Linked DNA regions of Homo sapiens: region 2 is linked to region 1. Evidence: fine-mapped expression QTL. A gene starts in region 1. The other region holds a variant in brackets. All regions are shown on one strand. Distances are from middle to middle. Region 1 holds the start of EDIL3 (EGF like repeats and discoidin domains 3). Region 2 overlaps EDIL3 (EGF like repeats and discoidin domains 3).

Evidence for each region. PIP is the estimated chance that this variant, and not a neighbour inherited with it, causes the effect.
Region 2: its variant is the best candidate, but not a certain one, in a credible set for the expression of EDIL3 in gastroesophageal junction (GTEx, PIP 0.89).

What each region holds. Positions count from the first base shown.
Region 1 is chr5:84,382,225-84,387,607 of GRCh38, forward strand. EDIL3 (EGF like repeats and discoidin domains 3) reads right to left here and starts at 2,656. Exons shown (of 11, transcript NM_005711.5): 1 at 2,084-2,656. The coding sequence starts at 2,150. EDIL3-DT (EDIL3 divergent transcript) reads left to right here and starts at 198. Exons shown (of 4, transcript NR_183295.1): 1 at 198-314.
Region 2 is chr5:84,290,460-84,295,842 of GRCh38, forward strand. The region is part of intron 1 of EDIL3 (EGF like repeats and discoidin domains 3); the gene reads right to left. Among named protein-coding and RNA genes, the nearest start is that of EDIL3-DT, 89 kb to the right of the region's middle. The variant G/T (reference allele first, on the strand shown) is at 2,483.

The sequences.
Region 1 (5,383 bases):
CATCCAGCTTCCCGAGCATTGTCTAAGAGAACCAGGATGGAGAGTCCAGGCAACATCTCCATGGTTGGCTTGTCTGGCGGAGTAAGCTGTGCCCTCGGCGCGGGTATCTTCAGGAGACAGAGCTCCTGGCTGCAGCGAGCCGGGACTTGCCGCGCCCCGGGGCTCCCTCAATCAGACCCAGCCAGGCAAGCGCGGCCACATAGGCAAGCGCGGCCACATAGGCTAGACGCACTATCTTCTCCTCTACCCCGCGCCGCCCTCCACCTCGGAGCGGGGACGTACGGTGGTGGCGGTGACACAATGCGAGTGAGTGGGTGAGTGTGTTTTCGTGTTTGGGGTGGAAACGTAGGCGGGGAAGAGAAGGAGGAGAGGGGAGTGCCTGCAGTCCTTCCCCCTTCCCTTCCTGCTAAGAGATCAAAGTGCAGAGGAAATCCAGACGGGAAATGAGAGAAAGGAAAAACAGCAGCCGTGGAAGCACTCTCTTTTTTATATCGCTGGAGACTCGGCCGAGCAACTACTGGAACCATTACCATTTCTTAACCTTTAGTGGAGTGGCTGCCTTTGCCTATTAACTGGAAGGGCACTTTGTAAACGCAGGCGAGGCACACACCTACACACACGCCTACACGCTGGGGGAAAATAACCACATTCTGGGGGACGGAGGGAGGCCCAGGCAAGGCGCGGCCATGGATCTCTACTGCCAGAGCTGCGAGGGCATCTGGCCAGCAACACCCGGCTTCTTGGGCGAACAGTCGCCCAAGAGTCCACAATTTTCTTGTGACTCAAATAGATGGATAGGTGCATGGATGGATGGTGCAGAATATTCATACTCTGTCTAATCTCAAGTGGACTGGAGTCAACGCATTTTTAAATCCATCTACCTTTTTTAGAGGCACAGCATTTAAAACCCTGTAGTTCACTCAGCTTTCCACTTGAAGCTGCCTGCAGAGGATTCTATTACCCGCGGATCCCTCACAAGGGGCCGCCCGCATCTGTGAGCGCAGGAGTGGCACAGCTCCCCCAGGCACAGCTCCCACTCGCCTCCCCACACACCCTGCTGCCCCCGCTGCCCTTTTCCGGCGACTACTTCAGCCCCGGCCAGCGGTGAGACCCAGGTCAGCACAAGGGTTTGTATGGACAAGCTGCACCTCGCAGGGGACCTGGAAGTCGCCTAAACTACTCCAGCAGGACACTCGTCGAAGTCCTGCGTTTTCTTTTAAATGCTTTTTTCTTTTTAATTTAATTTGATTTTTATTTTTCTGTTTTTATTTTTTCGTGCAATTCACAGAAGGCATCACCCTACAAGCTCTCACAACTTTTCCGCTCCTGTGCGGGGACGCGAGGGGTGGCTTGCCCCGCACTATTCCCCATTACCAAGAGTTAACACTGGTACTCGGAGGGGGTGCGCAGCTAAGCTCCAGGCCCCTGGGGTCAGACTAGGAGAGGCGGGTTCCTGGGGTTTGCTGTAATCGATGCTGCTCCTCTGGGATGGGGAGGCAGGAGAAAGCTGAAGTGACCTGTGAGACTCCTCTCCACCTCACCCGCGGCCAAAACGCCCAGCGCCGGGTCTGGGTTTGCGAACGGCTCAGCCCAGGCCCTGCGCCAGAGCACCGCACCCGGGGGCGGACGGCCCTGCAGCTCCCCAGCCTCTTCCCGCATCAACTAGCTGACGCCCGGGCGCACTGGCTTCCCCCGCTCCCGCCCGCACGAAAGCCCTGCCCGACGTCTGCAGTCAGCATCGCCCGCACTGCCTAGGGAGGGTTTGCGCCGAGACCCAGTGGCCGAGTGAGCCACAGAGTCGCTGGTCCTGGGGACGCTGTCTTCTACCGCTCCCCACCGTCCTCCTCTTTCCTGTATCTCACCCCGGTACCCCGCACCCTTCTCCCCGCTCGGCCCCGCGCACTCTGCTCAGACTTTACAAGCACTTTCTCGGGGCACCCAGGACTCGACGCCTCCTCCGCGCCGCCAGCGGCGCTCGCCACCCTTGGCACGCCGGAGGGACCGCCTCCGGCCCCCTGCGCGGCGTTTCTCAGGGGACTCCCAGCCCATCCCTCACCCAGCTGTCCGGGTCCCGACGCCTTACCTTTGCCGAACTGGGGGACACCGAGGCTGAGCCCGACCAAGAGCCAGACGGCTACCGAGCGCTTCATGATCCCGTCTCCCGGACGTGACCCCGGCTGGTCAGGGGTCGTCGCGGAGGGCAGTGTAGCCGAGGTGGCAGCGCAGGGCAGCAGCAGACTCCGCCCCTACTAAAGAATTCAAGAAGACGTTCTCTTTCCTCAGCGCTTTGTTAAACAAATTCTTGGAGAGGGCGAGAGTGGTGACTAAAGAGAGGAGCCTTTCCTCCCCTTTTGCCTGCGCTCCGGCGCGCGGAGGTGGGTGAGCTCCGGGGAGCCGCCGGCGGGCTCAGCCCTCCGCTGCGGGTGGGTCCCGGCAGAGGCGCGGCGGGCGGGGCGCGGGCTCCCGCGGCCGCCCCGGGTCTGCTGCGCGGGCAGGCAGACCCACCGGCAGACAGGCGGACCGGGCGCTCGGCTGTCGCTGTTCTCCGCGCGGCGGCTGCGGGGCTTCTGACTTGGAGAACAATGAAGCGTGAGCTGGAGGGGAGCGAGCGGGCCGCCGGGAGCGCACTGTGTACAAACAGAGGCGGCGTGCGTGTGAGTCTGAGCCTGGCAGGCGCGCTCCCCACTCCCCCGGCGCCCGCCCGCCCTCCGCCCGCCCTGTTATTCACTCCCCGGGTCTCCCCCTCCTCTCTCTCTCTTTTGCTCTCTCTCTCTGTCTCTCTTTTGCTCTCTCTCTCCTTCCTCCCTCCTCCCCTCCTCTTTCAGCTCCTTCTGCTATAAGAGAAAAGGGAGACAACTGCAGCCACACCCTAGCACCTAGCACCTGCCACCACCTCTGAAGTTCCTGCATTGCCTGTACCTTCTCCGCACATGCTGGAGACTGTGGGGTTAAGAGCTGCACCCTTGCTGCCTGAGAGTCCCTTGGATTCCAGCACTGACTTTATAATTAACCACGTTAAGGATTCCCCTGAACTTCCTTTCTCAGTATAACCAGGAACAGAAGTTAAGAGATTTTGAAAAGTGACTCTTGGGGCACAAAACTGCATGAGAGACAGAACCCTGCAAAGTGAATTGCCCCGTATTTCTCAGGAACTGCAACGTAGTCAGCAACCAGACCCTAATCAGCTAAGACAGGGCTGCTCTGCTGCTCTGTCTACAATTTAGTTAGCTCCAGGGCTGGGGAGAGAGGGTTGTGGGCTCATCTGTTCACGGGGGCAAAAGGGTGGAAGTGAGTAGGAGACATGCATCTCGTTAAGCAGGACATCTGTTTCAGAGAAGAAGTGGGGCAAGTTTGGGAACTGTGCAAGAACATAAAGGCAAAGACAGACCCTTGAAGCATCACTAAGGTGGATCAAATTTTCTTTCTATCCGCCAAAATAAATGGACTGGTTTTTGCAGTGGAAGTGATTGAACCAAAAATACAGCTCATGGCTTACAATTGTGCTTTCTTCTCTGTTTTTCGGTTAGAATGATTGCTTATTGTACATGGATCCAATTCCAGCAGTTACAGGTACCAAAATGAAACAGGGCTTCTTTTTTCTTTTTTTTCTTTTTTTTTTCTTTTCCTTTTTTCTTTTCTTTTTTTTTTTTTTTTGTCTTCTAGAGAGGGAGGTAGGGAGAGAGACAAACACAGAGCTAGAGAAATTGAAAGAGAAACATTCTCGAAGGCAAAGAGTTGAAAGGTGAATCTACTAAGAAAAGAATAACAGAGTGCAATTAGCCATGGAACTACATCTCCATCTGCCTCCTTTAAAGGATGAGTCCTTTAAAGGTGAGATGAGTCCTTTAAACTTAAATTTCTACCTTCCTTTTCAAATTTTAAGTGAAATGAAGAATGCGAGGTGAATGGAACCGTAATGCTGAATACTGCTAGGGAGGGTTTAAGGTATTGTATAACTGACAAGCAAACAACGGAAAAAAGAAAGAAAGAAAGAAAAAAAAGAACACCTTTCAGAAAGGGTTTGTTCATATCTCACGATTGGTGGGAGGGTTAAAACACATTTTTTAAAAAATCACCTTGCTAAGAGAATGAGAGAGATTCATTTATTTACTGTCTATTTATATGCCTAAAGTCACAGATGTTAGAATAAGACAGTATTGTCCAGAGTTGTAGCAAAGATGTTTCAAGCAATCAAATTCTAATTTTCTGGTGCATCATCATTACTTCCTTGTGAAACTATGTTTTCAGTCACCCTGTGGCATGTTCATCCTAAAATACACTTTAACTTTTGAAATGAGATGTCTAATATTAGTTTTAGGTTTTATTTCTAAAGGATAGTACTAAATCCTAAAAATGTAAAGTTGGAAACCAGTCTCTCTGGGATGTGATATTTAAGGGAAAAAAAAGAGTGGGTTAAGAATTTTGTGTAGTTTTGTATGTTATTCCCTGTTTATTTCCACTTTTTTGATAGTATTTGACCTTAATGAGCATATTAAGAAGTTAAATTATTTTTGCCAACAGTGTGTGTTTCTAAACATGTATCTTTCTTTTAATTTAAAGAAGGGTTTTTAAAAACTAGTGGGCATAAAAGTACATTACAATGCACATTCTATGCCCAAATACTTGGTGCGGAGACAGTAAATGACATTCTGTATTACCTGATAGACAACTTATGAAAGATGTTGCCAGTTTAATATCTCTACTTTCTCGTCTCATTTCCAATAAAAAATTGATAGTCTTAAATCCACAGCTCCATATTCATAATCATCCCCTCTTTTTGAACCACTAATTGATAATGATCATCTACCAATAAGCCTTTCATTTTGAAGATTCTAGGCACTTTACCTAATTTACCTTGATAGGACTCATTTCACTGTTACTGCACTCACACATAGCCTCTTCAGAAGTGGAATATAAGATATGTTAGAAGACTGCAGAAATTGAATTATTTAAAATAAAATAAAATTTAAAAAGTAAAAGGATGAAACTCTATTGTGAAGCTTGTACTTCACACAAAGTGCTAAGGGACCTTTACTAATCACTGTGATCCAGCCTACAGTTTTATAGCTTCTCTTAATAGGAGCCTACAGTGCCAAAAATGAATCTGTACATCACTCAAAGACAGTGCTTTTCAAGTTATTTTCTGCAGGCCTCCTTTTCCCCAAGATGTTAATAGGTTTCTGGGAGGAAAAAATCCATGGTAAAATAATTTGGGGAGACATTGCATATCAAAGCAGCCTCTTAGAGATTCATGGTGAATGTTAGTATATTAAATACTTTGAAAGGTCCTGTGGTTAAGAATTTTTTTCAAAAATATTTAATTCAGCATTTTGCAGACTTTCTTTTTTGTACTATGACAAACTTTTTCTTAGAACACCTGTTA
Region 2 (5,383 bases), 92 kb before region 1:
CTACCGAACGTTGGCAGAATATGCCACCTCAAAATTAGCCACTTTGGCATAAGGCATTTCAAAAATAGCAGGAAAAAAAGAGTCTGACCTTCTTTCTCCTCCCTGTACCAGGAAGAAAGAAATATTTTTCTTACCAGAGATGGTGAGTCAAGGCTGAAAAGTATCTGTACCAACAGATCTTATAAAAATAATTTTTATCTTCCTTAGCTATCCCATACATATTAGTTACTTATCCACTATCACCAGACTTTGTTCAACCTAATGTATAAACATCTGGGTTTTGCCACTTCTTTCGGTCTTCATTTTCTTGTGGAGATTTCTAGGTGCATGTAAAATAAACTCTACGATTTTCTCCTATTAATCTGCCTTATGTCAATCTAGTCTCAAACCTAGCCAAAGATCCTAAGAGTGCAGAGGTAGAGCTTTGCCTTCCCTACTTCATTTCAAGTGGCTCAGTTTCAACCCTTGAACAGAATGCCACTGAACATTTGTGATTTCAGCTTTAGTCTCACTGCAACATTTAAACTAAAAATATTCTCTACTAAGCCAGAGAAGTTGGTCACATTATAATCTCCTTGATAACCTGCTTTAAAATTTCAATATGTAGTACTAGAAAAAAATGCAAGGTAGTGCCTGCCCAACAGTGAGTTTAGTTGACAGAATCAAGCAAGTTACTCGTAGCTGCTTGTCAAATTGAACCAAACTAAAGTGAGAAAAGAGCTGATAGGTTTAGAGTCAGGTAAATCAATTAAGGCTTACCATTTCTCCTTACTAAATTGATTTTCATGATCGGCACGAGAATGTCAGCCAAATGATATTAGGACATTTAATTTTATTTTAGCTATATTTACACACACATGAATGCACAACCGGTTTGCCTGAATATAAAGAACACTTGAATCAGGGAACAATCGCACTTTTTAAGACAGAGGTTATCAGATTGAATTTTTTGAAAATATAGGTATATATCCTTTTAAAAAGGTACACTAAAAACAAAACAACCCTGAAAGGTGGGAAATAATATGACGGTGTGTGTGCCAAAACATTTAACTTAAAGAAAAGCAATGTAAATAACAAACCGAATAGAATTTTAGACAAAAATTGATACAAAGATTATAAGAGATAGGTGACTAACCACCAGGAAGTGAGAACATTCATTATCATGTATGTGTGTGTATATATCTATCTATATCTATATATCTATATATATATCTATCTATATAGATATATCTATATATCTATCTATGTAGATCTATCTATATATCTATATAGATCTATCTATATAGATATATCTATATATCTATATATCTATATATCATATACAGATATATACACACACATATATATACACACACATATATATACACACACATATATATATATATACCTACAGGCCCTGGATATATAGAAAGTAATAACTTTAACAAAAGTATAGCAGACAATATACAGAGCATCAAATTATATTTTTGTAGCTCCAACTCCAACATATAAAAGCACATTTGCCATTGATATACCCAGATACATTAAAAAAGAAAAAAAACTCAGTGCTACATCTCTACTGCCCAATACAGTAGCACTAGCCACAAGTGGCTATATAAACTTAAAGTTAAATTTTATTTAACTTAAAGTTAAATAAAATTACAATTACAAATTCAGTGAAAGTAAATTTCTGTTTTTTTGTTTGTTTTGTTTTTTTAGCCACCCTGTCTGTGGTACTTTGTCACTGCAGCTCCAGCCAAATAACACATCAGGTTTGATATATTTTTACACCATACTCTCTTTCATACCTGCTTACTAACAATAATTGGAAATATCAATAACACTGATGATTTTTTTTAAATCACAAAATTATGACATTCAAAATTTAGAGGTTGTTTTCTGAATAAGATATTAAAAGGCACTCAGAATTTCAGAACCCATCTCATGCTGAATAAGACATAGTGTCCCGGAGCCAGGAAAGCATTCACTTTTTATAAATGCACTTTTGTTTAGTTCTCTCAGCTGTGCACAGAAGAAACAGGACAGAGAATTGCACAGATTTGTGCAGCATATTATCCAACCAACAGCAATGATACAAACTCTCAATGGCAGAAGAGATATTATGAGTGTTTATTGTTAATGTTTGAAAATAAAAAGTGGTAATGCTATAATTATATCCTATTTTTTTAAGATTTGAATATATCCTACCATTAAAATATTTGGTTCTCATGCTATATACTTTTCTTTATTTCACAGACTAAGGAATTTATCAGATACCAGAAACTCATGGGTATATTGAATAAGCCCAGAGTTATTGCTAATGTGAGAAACACACTCACCCACCCAAACCCAAAGATGGACTTAGAAGCAAAAAGAACAGCGAAAGTGAGACTTTTAATAACAGCCTTGCAAGATCGAGTGTCTGGTAGGCAGGCACATCTGGGGCAGTCACAACAGGTAATTTATCTCCTAGCACGCAAGTCCCTCCCCTAGTTCCTCATTG[G/T]TCGAGTACTATGGGGTTACAATCTTCCCAGACGTTGCCTAAAGTTTCATTATCTCCCTTATAAGGTTATACCTCCATCCCCTTCCTTGCTTAAGTTTCGACTTCCCAAAAATGAAACTTTCTTCCCTTTTATGGGCTGACCCCTCCGCTACATTCTGTTTGCTTATTGTGACCTTCTAGGTGCAAGAGCCCTGTGGTTTGTTACATTTGCAGCCTGGCTGCCAGTACTTAGATTTATCATGCCTTGAAAATGGACCATTTAAAATGTTTTCTCACACTAACAACACAATCAAAGCCGTTGATATATTTCTTTAACAAACACGAGCAATTTACAAAGTTAATTAATTTAATTTTCCTAAAAAGCTTATGAATAAACACTATTATTACCCAATTTTAAAGTTGGGTAACGTAAGATGGCAGAGAGGTTGAATAACTTCCTGAAAGACACTGGGGGCACAGCCTCAGTTTGAATCCAAGCTGCTGCCTTTGGAGTCTGTGCTCTTAACCACTGTGCTACAGCTTAACCTGCGAGTAGCTCTGCTAACTCTTGTTTTCAAGCGTAGACTTACCCATGTAGAGGCAAACATAGGGAAAAATGAATCGTGTCAAGTTCCATCCGCATGTGTCCCAGTTAAATGTCTACATTAAGGTAAATTAAAGCTGGCAAATCTACAGTATTTAGGGATACATTTTCAGGTTGTAATGTGGTAAAACAAGCAAGAAAGTGATTAATATAAAAATAAATACAGTATTTTGCTTTGCCAGCTGTGGGAGGCTGGGGGAGGGGGGATTGTGGCTAGAAAAGAGTACTACACAGAATGTATCTGGATTAAGACTGTTTTTTTTTTTTTGACCAAATGATGTTATATGAGTTTTCTCTTGAAAACAATTCAATACGATGTATGTTTGTTTTATTCACTTTTCTGTTTATATGTAATTTCTTGCAACAAAAGTCTTAATACATTTATATAGACATACAAATACATATTTTAGGTTTGTTGGAAACAGAACAATATTATATATCCCATTTGCAAATGTTTATATAAAATACATGAAGTATGGCAGCATCCAAAAAAGTAAGTCAAACTTACATACTGTAAAATTGCAGATTCCCCTTCATTATTGCATATACCATAATGACCATAAATTAAGTCATCATCGGCCGGGTGCGGTGGCTCACGCCTGTAATCCCAGCACTTCAGGAGGCCGAGACGGGTGGATCACGAGGTCAGGAGATCGAGACCATCCTGGCTAACATGGTGAAACCCCGTCTCTACTAAAAAAATAGAAAAAATTAGCCAGGCATTGTGGCGGGCACCTGTAGTCCCAGCTACTCGGGAGGCTGACGCAGGAGAATGGCATGAACCCGGGAGGTGGAGCTTTCAGTGAGCTGAGATCATTCCACTGCACTCCAGCCTGGGTGACAGAGCGAGACTCTGTCTCAAAAAAAAAAAAAAAAAAAAAAAAAATTAAGTCATCATCCAGATGGAAATGCTGTGAAAAGTTTCAACTAGCCAGATATACTAGACAAATATTCATAAGAAATAAAACATTTTGAATACTTATTAACAAATTTTAGTTTTTTGGCAGATGTAGTCATATATATGTGCATACATATATACATATATACATACATGTTTATCACACTCAAGAATTATACCAATTAAAGGGATTCTTTATATTTAAAAAATAATAATTATAAACCAAAATTGATTCATATTGTTGGAAAACATTATAAAGAGTTATGTAGATTGCACAGTTAGGAAATAAATTGGCCAACATTTACTAGTTAATCTTTATTAAGAACTTACTGAGTGTCAGGTGCTGTGGTAACACATTATGTGCATTACGTTTGTAAATCCCAACAATGAATTAAGCAGCCTTATGATTCTCATCTCACAGAATCTAGAGGTAAGTAACTTGCCCAAGTTACACTGCTGGTAAGAAGCCCTACTTCATCAACAACAACTACACTTGAAACAATAGCAAAATTGAAGTGTGACAGTAAACTGAATGCAATATACATTACAGTATAATTTATTTTATTACTTACACATTTCAGCAAAGTGCAAGTTTTCTGGAGTATTTATCTTGTTCCCATAGATGTTGTACAGGGAATTCAATAATAAGAATAGTAGCCAGAAAAGAAAAAGGCAGAAAACTTAACAGTTATAAGAAAATGAAAAATTTTAGTACTTTTTTCTATTCCCATGCTATATATCATAATATAGAGGAAATTAAAGAAAAATATTTTTGATTACATAACTTTTAAAAATAATAATTCTGTAGGTGTGAATATGTGTGTGTTAACCTGTATGAGTGATTAATATGTCATTAGAAGAAAGGATGTTACCCACTCTAAAATAATGTTAGATGACATTTATGCACTAATAATATGAACCACAAAAAAAGTCTAAAATATTTCAGACAATGGTACTTATACTTAAAAATGAATTTATCAATATTACCAAAGCAACAGGAAAGTCTATCATCATAACAGTGGAGTATTAATACCCATGATAAAAATTAACTAAATTAAATTATATTTAGATATTTTTTGAATATTCAACAAGAATTAATTTGTAAATGAGTAACAGGCAAACTTACTGACTTTTCCTAAATATAATGACTGACTTCTGAGAGCTAATCAGAGTTCACTGCTTCATTTCAAAAATAGCAGAGTAATAATATATAATATTAATTTAAACATATTACTCTTAAAAAACATAACTACAAGATTTTCCTAAACAACTTGCAACTTAATAATGCATACTGATATTAATTGCAATTGTTTATATACAAAAACTTGGGTTGAATTCTCTCTCTGTGTTGCTTAACTGTTATACACACACCATTTGCTATGTTTTAATGGAAGCATTTTGAATACCCAAAGACATGTTT